Linked DNA regions of Homo sapiens: region 2 is linked to region 1. The links come from fine-mapping of genetic effects on gene expression. Tissue or cell type: esophagus mucosa. Region 1 holds a variant in brackets; the other region holds the start of a gene. All regions are shown on one strand. Distances are between the middles of the regions.

Region 1 (5,216 bases):
TCAGGAGTTCGAGACCAGTCTGGCCAACATGGTGAAACCCAGTCTCTATTAAAAATACAAAAATTACCCAGGCGTGGTGGCACACGCCTGTAATCCCAGCTGCTCGGGAGGCTGAGGCAGGAGAATAGCTTGAACCCAGGAGGTGGAGGTTGCAGTGAGCCAAGATCATGCCACTGCACTCCAGACTGGGCAATGGAGTGAGACTCTGTCTCAAAACAAACAAACAGCCAGGGCTATCACAGGCCTGATCCTGCCTCCCCAGGTCCTGAGGCTGGGAACTCTACCTGTCCACCAGTCTCAACCCTGTGTCCCGGCCACACCTTTCCAGTGTCCACCCCGACCCCATCCCATGAAGACAAGACGCGATGCAAATACTGACTGAGGGTAGTGAAGGAAACAAATGAAGCCCCAAATATAAGTTCAGGGAGCTTCTATTCTAGCTGGGGAGCCAGGCAGGGAGGAAGGGAAACACCAATTGTGCATGAGGCGTGCTGAGGAGGAAAACATAGAGTAGCGAAGGGAGGCGTGAAATGTCAGGAGCGGAGGCTGGAATTTCAGGGAAGACCTAAAAAGCCGCGAAGACAGGGGAGAAGTGAGTCATGTGGCTATGGGGGATGGGTCTGGAAAGAGGCAGTCCAGACGAGGGCCCATGGGCGGGGCTGCATGGTGTCATTCAGGGATGTCGGGGCCCACAGCAGAGGGCGGGTCCCGCGGTGGACACGAGGGTGAGGGGTGCAGGGAGGAGGAGGAAGGCAGGAGCTGGAGCAGGAACCCCCATGCCGAGGCTGTGGCCCCACCTCCCTGACACCCTCTCTCCCCACACCCTCGCTCCTGCGCACGCACACACACTTGCAGCTCTCACCCCGTCGGTGAAGAAGCTCCGGAGCATCCGCAGGCTGGGTATGCGGTTTGGCAGGCGCCTGGAAAGCGAGGGTCGAGGGTGAGGGATGTGGGCAGCAAAGCTGGGACCTCACTATCTCGTCACCCACCAAACCCCAAGCCCAGAAGCCTTCCAGCGGGGGAGGCACACTGTCCCATGCATAGAGGACCCCCAGGGCCAAGAGCCCTGCCCCAGAGCAGCTGGCCACGGTGGCTGTGGCCACCCCACCCCGTGTCCGGACAGGGCCTCACCGCAGAACCCGGCCCTCGTCGCGGAAGGTGTTGAGTCCATCATCGCAGGACTTGGAGCGCTCCGTGGTGATGGCCAGCAGGTAGGAGGAGCGGCGGCCAGCCTTGATGCTGCCTGCAAAGCCGCCCACATCGGGCCTCAGGGTCAGCGGGGCAGCAGGTCAGGGGCTTCCCAGAGCCCTCCCTTCTGGGCAGGGGCAGGAGGTGACTCTCCCAAGGGGCCGCAGGAGAAGCGGAAACCAGAGGAAGAGGCCAGACATCAAGCAGCAGGCCCAACAGAGACCCCTGGGACTGGGCAGCGAGGGAGAGGGTGGGGCTGGGGGTGTGGGGAGTGCTCACTGCAGTCCTGCGAGTAATGGCGTCCGAGGGTGAAAGTGAAGGTCGGGGAAGATGGGCTGGTGCCCAGGACAGGGGCTGAGTTCATGGCACTGGAGACCACAGCAGAGGCAGGGACGTGCTTGGCTTGGAGGTCAATGCTGGGGCTGGTGGGCTCATCTATGCATGTGGAAGGAGAAAGGTGTGAAGGCAGCAGACAGCGGAGCCTGCCTGCCTCCACCCTAGCCTTGCCAGCCCCCGTGCCACTCGCCTCCAGGCTCAGACACATCCCAAAGGGTCCTGCTGGCAACATGCCCACTGTCAAGCATGACTGGCCCACTGTCCAGACTGTGGCCATGGAATCCTTACCCTCAGGAGTGGGGCTGAGCCACCCTCCTTAGACCGGGCTCCAGAGGACAGAGCCAATATTCCCCCATCAGACTGGGAGCCTGCTGAGGGCAGGGACGGTGTCTCCCTCATCAGACTGAGGGCACTCAGAGAGAATGAATTATGTCTCCCCTCTCAGACCAAGAGCCTCCTGAGGGCAGGGGCAGTGTCTTCCCCATCAGACTGAGAGCTTCCTAAGGGCAAAAGCTCCCCCATCAGCTGGGGCTCCTCAAGGGCAGAGATGACATCTCCCCCTCAAACAGACTG[T/C]GCTGTGGAAGAAGAGACTGCCTCTCCCGGCCACAGCCTAGAGCCTTCCTTACTAGCAGAAGGGGCTGTGTCTCTGCTCCACCGAAGGCTGGCTGGGGGAGCCAGGGCTGTGTCTTCCCCCTGCCCCAGGCCTCCTCCCTCTCACTGTCTGGTAGGGTGAGCTCATCTCCCATCTACCACCATCCCTCTCCATTACCCTGCATCTTGCTCTTTCTCCCCAGCCCCGTCTATCCTGCTCCCTCTTGGACACCTCATATTCAACAGTCCTGAACTTTGTCCCCCTCTCACTCCCAACACGGGGGTGAGGCACCACCCCCAAGCCCGGCCAGAAACCTGGGCATCACCCAGCCACTCTACTCTCTTGCCTCTCCCTCTCCTGCATCCAGTCGAAGGCAAGGCAAGCCTTAGAGGGTTCCCTCTGCTCTCAAAAGCCAACCCCAGTGACTAATGAGACCCTTGGGCCTGAAAGGGTCCTCACAACCTGGAAGGGGGTCCTGCCTCTCTCCCTTCAGGGTCTTTGCATATTCTATTCCCTCTCCTTGAATATTCTTCCCCTGATAAACTCCTTCTCATCCTTCAAGTCTTAGCCCAAATGTTCTTTCTCCAAGATTCTCACCATAGCCCTTCTCTGAGCCCGTCTCCTCAAGCTCCCTGTCCCACGACACGCCCATCCCAATGGATTGTCCCTGCATGTCCAACACCCTCTGCTGGGCCATCCAGTCCAGGAGAGCATGGAGCCATGCACAGGGCCTGACACAAATATCTGTTGAGTCGATGGAGGGATGGAGGGTGGATGGAAAGGACAAAGAGGGAAAGATACAAAGGGAAGATGGAAGGAAGAATGGGAGAATGGAAGGAAGAGTCAAAGGAAAGAAAGATGGATGAATGGGTGGAAGAAAGGATGGAACAAATGAATGAACAAAAGAAGGAGGGAGAGAGGAAGGAAAGAAGGAAGAATAGATGGATGGATAGATGGATGAATGGATGGAACAAATGAATGAACAAAGGAGGGAGAGAGGAAGGAAAGAAGGAAGGAAGAACAGATGATGGATGGATGGATGGATGGGGAGAGGGAAAAAAGAAAGAGTGCGTGGAAAGATGCTGAAAGGATAAATGAATGAGAGGTAGGATGGAAGAAAGGATGACAGAGAACAGAAAGAAAGATGGAAGAACAGATGGATGGATGGATGAACAGATGAATGAATTGACAGAGAAACAAGATGATCCCACCAGCACCCAGCCGAATTCTGCCCATGGCAGACAGGCAGATGGGGTACAGCAGGACACAGACAGCCGACAGCTAAGTCCCCCAGGACAGCCACATGTACCATCACTCACCAATAAAGGGGATGGAAGCCAGAGAGTCTTCGGTGGTGGCCAAAGGGGCCACCTTCCTGCCCAGGCGTTCCCCTCGCCCACTGGCCTCTGGCTCTGGGGACTCGTCACCAAATCCAAGGTTCATCTGTCTTGCGGGGGTCAGCTGAACCTTGCGGCCCGTCGGGGGCTTCTGCCTCAGGACCACCTCATCGCCGCGATCCTCCGCAGGAGGCTCCAGGGCCCGGGTGCTGGGTTCCGGCCGTACAACCCTGGGTGGCTCGGAGGCCTCTGGTGGGAATGACGCAGGGGACTGGGCCAGGTTGAAGGTAGGCAGCCCCCCAAAGGGTGAGTCCCGGAAGGAGAGCGCATGGAGGAGGCCGGTCCGGCGCTGGAATGATGGGCTGTAGCTCCGGTAGCCGATGTACCCGAGGTCATCCAGGCCCTGCAGGCCAGACGGGGGTGGGGCCTGGGGCCCTGGCAGGTCCCGAGTTGGGCAGGCGGGGGTGCGGGCAGACGAACGCTGGGAAGCCCAGCCACACCGCTCAAAGCGGGGTGACACCAGTGCCCCTGGCCCCAGTGCCTCGGCAGAACGGGTGGCCCGGCTCAAGTAGTCATCTGAGCGAGCTCGGTGCCAGCCCTCCTGGCCCAGCTGGCTCAAAGCATCCTGGGAGGTGGAGCAGGGCCACGGGCGGGGGGCAGCCACCTCCTCCAACCGGTCCTGGGAGGCGCTGCGGGCCCGGGGGGCCATGGCTGGGCACCGTCTCTCCCCCGCCCGGCGGGGTACCTGGTTTGACAGCCAGTGTGACAAGGCCTGCTGGCACTCCAGTCTGCTGGGGGGCACCCGGCTGCCAGGCTCTGGGAAGGCACGGGGCGTCCGGGGCTCCGAGGAGAGGTGGGGGAAGGCACCAGGGCTGGGGCGGGGCTGGCTCATCCCCAAGGAAGAGTTGTCCAGGTGGGCACGGGCAGCAGGTGGCACACGGAGCCCCGGGTCACTCCAGGCAGCAGGACTCCGGGGGTCACTGGGCAGTGCTGAGGTGGGCTCAGGCACCATAGTGGCCCTGGTGGAGGCCCGGGCAGGAGGGGCGTAGGTCTTGCGGGGGTAGCAGATCGGGGGTGGCTCTGGGATGCTGCGGGCCTCTCCAGAATACGGCTCGTTCCCTTTCAGGTAGGCATCCTGGGAGTAGGCCTGGCCAGAGACACAGAGACAGGTAAGCAGGGCCAGACAAGTCCCACAGGGTAGGGGAACGGCAGCCCGAGGAGGTCAAGGAGCCCAGGAGGGAAATGAAGGGAGAGGACCAAGCGGTGGGGGGAACGAGGGAGAGGCATAAGTGGGTGGGGGTGGAAGGGCAGGTCCAGGGAGAGAACAAAGAAGAAGCAAGAAGCCTTTGAGACGCAGGCAAACTCCAGCAAAAGTGGGATTTCGCTAAGACTGTGACAAGGACTGCCCTAGCCACAAACATTCCAGCATCTGTTTCCTGGGGTCCTCCCCCAGTCCTGGCCTCCACCGCCTGCCTGCCCCCTTATGTCCACCAATGCCCAAAGCTCCTCGGGTGGAGCCGGAAAACCCCACCGAGACCAGTCAAGGTGGCAGATGAGAGAAGAAAGCCGGCTAGGGGTGTGTCTGGGTGGGGCAGAGGCTGGCAGAGCCCAGCTGTCCCTCCATCCCCGGGAATGGGGAGCTGGCTCCTGAGCCACAGGGGTGAGAAGGAGTTTGCCCACCTCCTGCCAGGCTTGAAGGAGGGGACTTGAGCCACCTTCTGCCACCCCTGGGCCTGGAATTTGGCACTGGGAGCTGAGGCTGA
Region 2 (5,216 bases), 39 kb after region 1:
TGCTATGGGCTAGCATGGGGCAGGGTGGGAAAGATTGGAGGAGTAAAGAAATAGAACAAAAGACAAGCAACTAAGCTGCAATCCAGCCAGAAGCTGACCTTGATCTTGGGCTGTGTAGAAAATGGACACGGATTTGGGGTGGGAGTGACAGCGGGACATAGCAGGTCCTGAGAAGCCAGATAGTGAGGGTGAGAGCCAGACTCTAGAGCCAGACTGCCACATTCCTACCCTGGCTCCACAGTGCACTGGGGGTGTGATTTGGGCTGCAATATTGGCTATGCCTCAGTGTCCTCAACTGTAAAATGGGGATAATAATGGTATCTACCTCTTAGTGGTATTGTGAGGATCAAATGAGGTAGTTTTTATAAATACTGGCCAGGAGTTTTTGCTGTCTGTGTATTAACTATGAGCTATACTGTGAAAGCAACTCCCCTTTCTTAAAAACACATTTTTTGTTTCCAGGCACCAGTGCTCATTTGAATATATTTGCTGGAATATTTGATATCTCCAATGACCATCTCCAGGTTTCTACATTGGAATCCAACTTCACAAGAATCCACTTGACCCACTATACTGGAGGAAACTTCCCTGCATGGCTAGCCTGGGATGCTGTGGGTCACAAGCCCCTCCCTAGAAGTTCTCCTGAGTATCTAACTGCAGTCCCTCACACTGTAACTTCTTCCATGCTGCTGCTTTGTAGTCTCTCTTTTAACCTTACACATCAAGAAGTCCTTCTGAGTATCCCTGCAATGTAGGATGAAGCAATCCACTACCCACTCCTGCACTGCTCTGCTCAGAACCAGCACCCTCCCTCACCCCCACTCCCATCCATGCCAAGAATGCTGCACTTCTTCCCCGTGAGCCAGGGTCAGCCCGAGGAGAGGGGCACAAGCACAGGGCCTCTTCCCCCCACCCAGTCCTTCTCTGCTTGGGCTGGGATCCACACAAGCCTGACCTATTCCCGTAGTCAGACACCTTCCTAACAGCTTTCCTCCCCAAGCTTCATCTTGTGCCCTGACTACCCTCAAGTGTCCTGGGTTCTTGCCTGGGCACTGTCACTACATAGGCTCAGACCCTCTCTGTGAAATGGGACACCAACACCTACCCTGCCCACTCCCATTCTTCCTGTTTATTATTATTGAGGCCTTTGAATCCAGCACTGAATGTAGAGGATTTACTGCTCCCATGGTTCCCAAGAAGAGGTCAGGTCCTCAGATGCAGGATCTTGGAATTCCCAGCCACCTTGGGGTGGACCCAACCACACTGTGGGCAAGTGGAAGAAGCCGCTGGGGCCGGGGGCCTTTGGGCTGCCTTTGGAGGCGAAATGACTGGTTATATAATCGAGATTCAAATCGCATGCCAAGGAGCACATGGCAGTGAGAGCTGTCACTTTGGGGAATGGGGTCTGTTGCCCTGGCAGAGGGGAGAACCACATGGGATCAAAAGCCACTCACCCCCAGCTAGGCCGCAGGGTTGGGGTGGAGACAGAGAGGGGTGCAGGGGATAGAGATGAAGTATGTGTTGCTGGTGGGGGATTGAATCCAAGGGACTCATGCTTGGATTCATGACCTCCACCCCCACCCCCCGTCCATCCTGAATTTCAAGTTCATAATTAGGAAACACACTTTGGCTGAAGGGAGTCGGGGAGAGATGCAGATTGAGGGAGAACTGAACACACATCCAGCAACCAAGGAACACACCAGTCTCCAAAAGAGTTGCAAGCACCAGATCCCACCTTCAACACTGCCGGGAAAGCTGGGGAGGAGGGTCCCCAAGTCTTTCAGCCCTGTCTAAAGAGGAACAGGCCTCAGCCCTGGCCTTGACCTCAACCTGGACCCCGGGGAATTTCTTTTCCGAGCTCAGGGAAACTGTTGGCCTGACAGTGTTCAACCCTTCAACTTAGGAGCAGGGAGGCCTGCTGGGGGGCTCCTGCAGGGCGGGCAGCCAGGCTCAGAGGTAAGGGAATGGCCCTGATGGGGGGATGGGGCTGGGAGGCCCCTGCTGGCCCCTCCCCAGCCTCAGCAGCTGGCAGATGAAAGAACCCAGGCAGAGCAGCCCAGCGCTGAGTAATGCCCCTGGCACCCCGCGCTCTGACCCACCCACAGCCGGTCGGAGAGGGCAGAGGGGAGGGCAGCCTCGCCGGCAGAGCCCGGGGTCCTGGGCCTGTGTCTAGAACTTCCCCAGGATCCAGGAGGGCGGCGGAACCGCGCCTGGCAACCCGTCCCGCAGTCCGACCCGGCAGGGGGCGAGTGTGGCGCGGGGAGGGGGTGTCCGGACGCCTTAGTGGAGGACGTCCCGCTCCGGGAACCCCCTCCCCCACCCCCTCTCCCTCCAGCTGTGCCGGGGCCTCGCCAACGGAAAACGAAAACTCGGGCAGAGGAAACGGCGGCAGGCGCCCCGCCTGAAAAACCCGAACAAAAGCCGCGGGCCTCCCGCCCCCGCTGCCCAGCCGCTGGGGGCCTGGCACCGCCACCTGGGTCTGTGCCCCCTGTCCTGACAGCCCCGTGCCCGTCCCGACCCCTTGCCTGCTTCCGTCCTTCCCACCCCTCTACCCCGGACAGCTCTTGCTCGGGCCCCCTCCCGGGCCTGCCACCAGCTGAATCTCCCCGCAGCGGTGCCCGCGGTGCCCGCGCCCACCGTGCGCCCCAGGCTGTGCAGGGCGAGCGGGGTCGCAGCGACCCTGGCTTGGCAGCCCGCTCCCCAGCAGCTACCGGCCCCGCCCACTTCCCTGGCCCAGCACCCTCACCTGTGGGGGCCGGGGCTCCGGGCGGGGCGGGATCCCGACCAGGCAGAAGGCGACTCCATTCATCGGGTGGCAGCGGCGGCTCTGCGGCCGGGGCACGGCTGGGGGCGCCGGCAGGGACCCGGGAGGGGCGGGGCCGGGGGCGGGGCCGAGCGCGGTGTGGGGGGGCCCCCCCCGGGGTCCGCCCCCTCGCCCCTCCCCCTTCCCACCACCCACCCCGCGCTCCCTTCTGGGTGCCCCGGCGGCCTCGCTCAAGGGCCACAGACCTGCAACCGGGCTGAGGCAGAGGCGAGCGCTGCCTGAGAGCTGGACGTCAGAGCCCAGCCTGGCGAAGAGAGGCGGTCTCCAGGAGACGCTTGCCCGGCCTCTAAGGGACCGGCCCAGATAGAGGGCCATCCAGGCCCAGGAAAGAGGACAAGGGCACCGAACCCAGAACTAGCACGGGGATAGGGAGGGAGGGAGAGGGAAGCAAAGAGAAACAGCCAGCCAGAGATGGTCAGAAACAGAGATCCAGAGACCCAGAAAGCATGAGAAAGGCAGAGACAAGATAGAGACAGCGCAGAGAGAGGCAGAGAAAGTCAGAAACAAAGATGAGGAGACCCAGGATCAGAAAGGGGGGAAGACAGAAAAAGGCTTAGAGGCCCCCTTCCCTTTAGAGACCCCTAGACATTGAGACACAAGGGAAGATTTAGTGCAGGGGGTGGGGAGACGGGGTGCCCCTCAGTGTAGGGTAAGCCCCTCCCAGCCAGAGTCTCAGCCCAGGATCCCAGAGAGGAGGGGGAGTCGAGCATAGAAGAGAGGCTGGCAGGTGCCCCAGCCCTTCGGACCCCCACCCAGCCAGTCCTGGGGCTCAGGCCATGGGGCCAGCCCACAGTCCTGCTCTGCAGTGAACAGCAGTGACAGCAGAGGCTCCCAATCACCAGCACCCCACAGCCACCCTTCCTGGCTTCACTCTGAGCTGGGCCTAAAGAGATGCCCTGGTCCTGAGCCAGCTTCTTTCCTTGTCCCCCAGAAGGACCCCCTCCAGCCCATCCCCTGACAGTCCAGGGAGGGACAGTCCTTCTGTCTTTCTTTTCCTTTTTTTTTTTTCGGCAGGGTCTCACTCTGTCACCCATGCTGGAGTACAGTGGCACAATCTAGGCTCACTGAAACCTCTGCCCCCAGGTTCAAGTGATCCTCCCACCTCAGCCTCCCCAGGTAGCTGGGACTACAGGCCCATGCCACACCGCCCACCTAACTTTTGTACTTTGGTAGAGATGAGGTTTCACCAGGATGGCCAGGCTGGTCTCAAACTCCTGACCTCAAGTGATATTCGCCTGCCTCAGCCTCCCAAAGTGCTGGGATTATAGGCGTGAGCCACCATGCCTGGCCTTGTCCTTCATTATTAGAAAATAGCTAGAAAATTCTTTCTACTATCTAACTCCCATTCTTCCTGCTTCTTACTTCCTCCAGCTTATGCTTACCTCTTTCCCATGACTTTTTCAGTTTAAGGGGCTTCCATATTCCTTTTCCCAGATTATGTAGAAAAGAAGGCGGAGGATAAAATAGGACTTGGAGAGAGGAGGCAGTGAAAGCGGGAAGGCCAGCTCTGCCTGCTGGAGTCACCACCTTCCTTGGGCAAGGAGACCCCTGAGAGCCGAGCAGCCCCAAGACCTCCACCCCTTTAACCTTGATCAGGGTTGGGAACTCAGGTCTTAGAGGGGTTGGGGTGCCCCAGACAACAATTAGGCCATCCCTACTCCTGTGAACCTGAGGAATGAGATACTGACTGGGGTTTAGCTCATATGCTTTATTTAATGTATTTTAAATCCCCTGGCAGTCAAGAGAAAGGGATTCTGTTTCATAATAATGGAGGGGCAGTTAAATGACTCCTCTCCCTTCCTCATCCCTTTTTATCAAGGTCATGTGCAGCCAGAATTAGCCTCCACTTCTGGAAAGTCCTTCCTGCTGTCTAACTGTAATCTGTCATACTGCCTGGATTTTTTTTTTTTTTTTTTTTTTGAGATGGAGTTTCACTCTTTTTGCCCAGGCTGGAGTGCAATGGTGCCATCTTGGCTCACTGCAACCTCTGCTTCCCAGATTCAAGCTATTCTTCTGCCTCAGCCTCCCAAGTAGCTGGGATTACAGGCGCCTACCACCACACCTGGCTAATTTTTTAATTTTTTGTATTTTTAGTAGAGACAGGGTTTCATCATGTTGGCCAGGATGGTCTCGATCTCTTGACCTCGTAATCCACCCTCCTCGGCCTCCTAAAGTGCTGGGATTACAGGCATGAGCCACCGCGCCTGGCCTACTGCTTGGATTTTCTTGCTTAACTTTCCACCAGGTCCCTGTTCCTGTCTCTTTCTGCCCTGTAGCTCCAGTGGTCCAATGCTTGTTGCCACCTTGGCTCAGAGGTCCTTTCCTCCCAGGATAAAGGGTTGTCTCTGTGAGGGAGAAAGGTTGGCATCTGAAATCAGACTGAACTGAGGCC

Evidence for each region. PIP is the estimated chance that this variant, and not a neighbour inherited with it, causes the effect.
Region 2: it holds the start of ARHGAP23, and the variant in region 1 is the best candidate, but not a certain one, in a credible set for the expression of ARHGAP23 in esophagus mucosa (GTEx, PIP 0.82).

The regions. Positions count from the first base shown.
Region 1 is chr17:38,465,551-38,470,766 of GRCh38, reverse strand. ARHGAP23 (Rho GTPase activating protein 23) reads right to left here. Exons shown (of 24, transcript NM_001199417.2): 7 at 3,436-4,600; 8 at 1,468-1,623; 9 at 1,132-1,243; 10 at 863-920. Among named protein-coding and RNA genes, the nearest start is that of ARHGAP23, 40 kb to the right of the region's middle. RefSeq lists enhancers at 856-1,492, 5,144-5,216. The variant T/C (reference allele first, on the strand shown) is at 2,098.
Region 2 is chr17:38,426,079-38,431,294 of GRCh38, reverse strand. ARHGAP23 (Rho GTPase activating protein 23) reads right to left here and starts at 2,831. Exons shown (of 24, transcript NM_001199417.2): 1 at 2,747-2,831. The coding sequence starts at 2,809. RefSeq lists enhancers at 850-1,757, 1,758-2,667.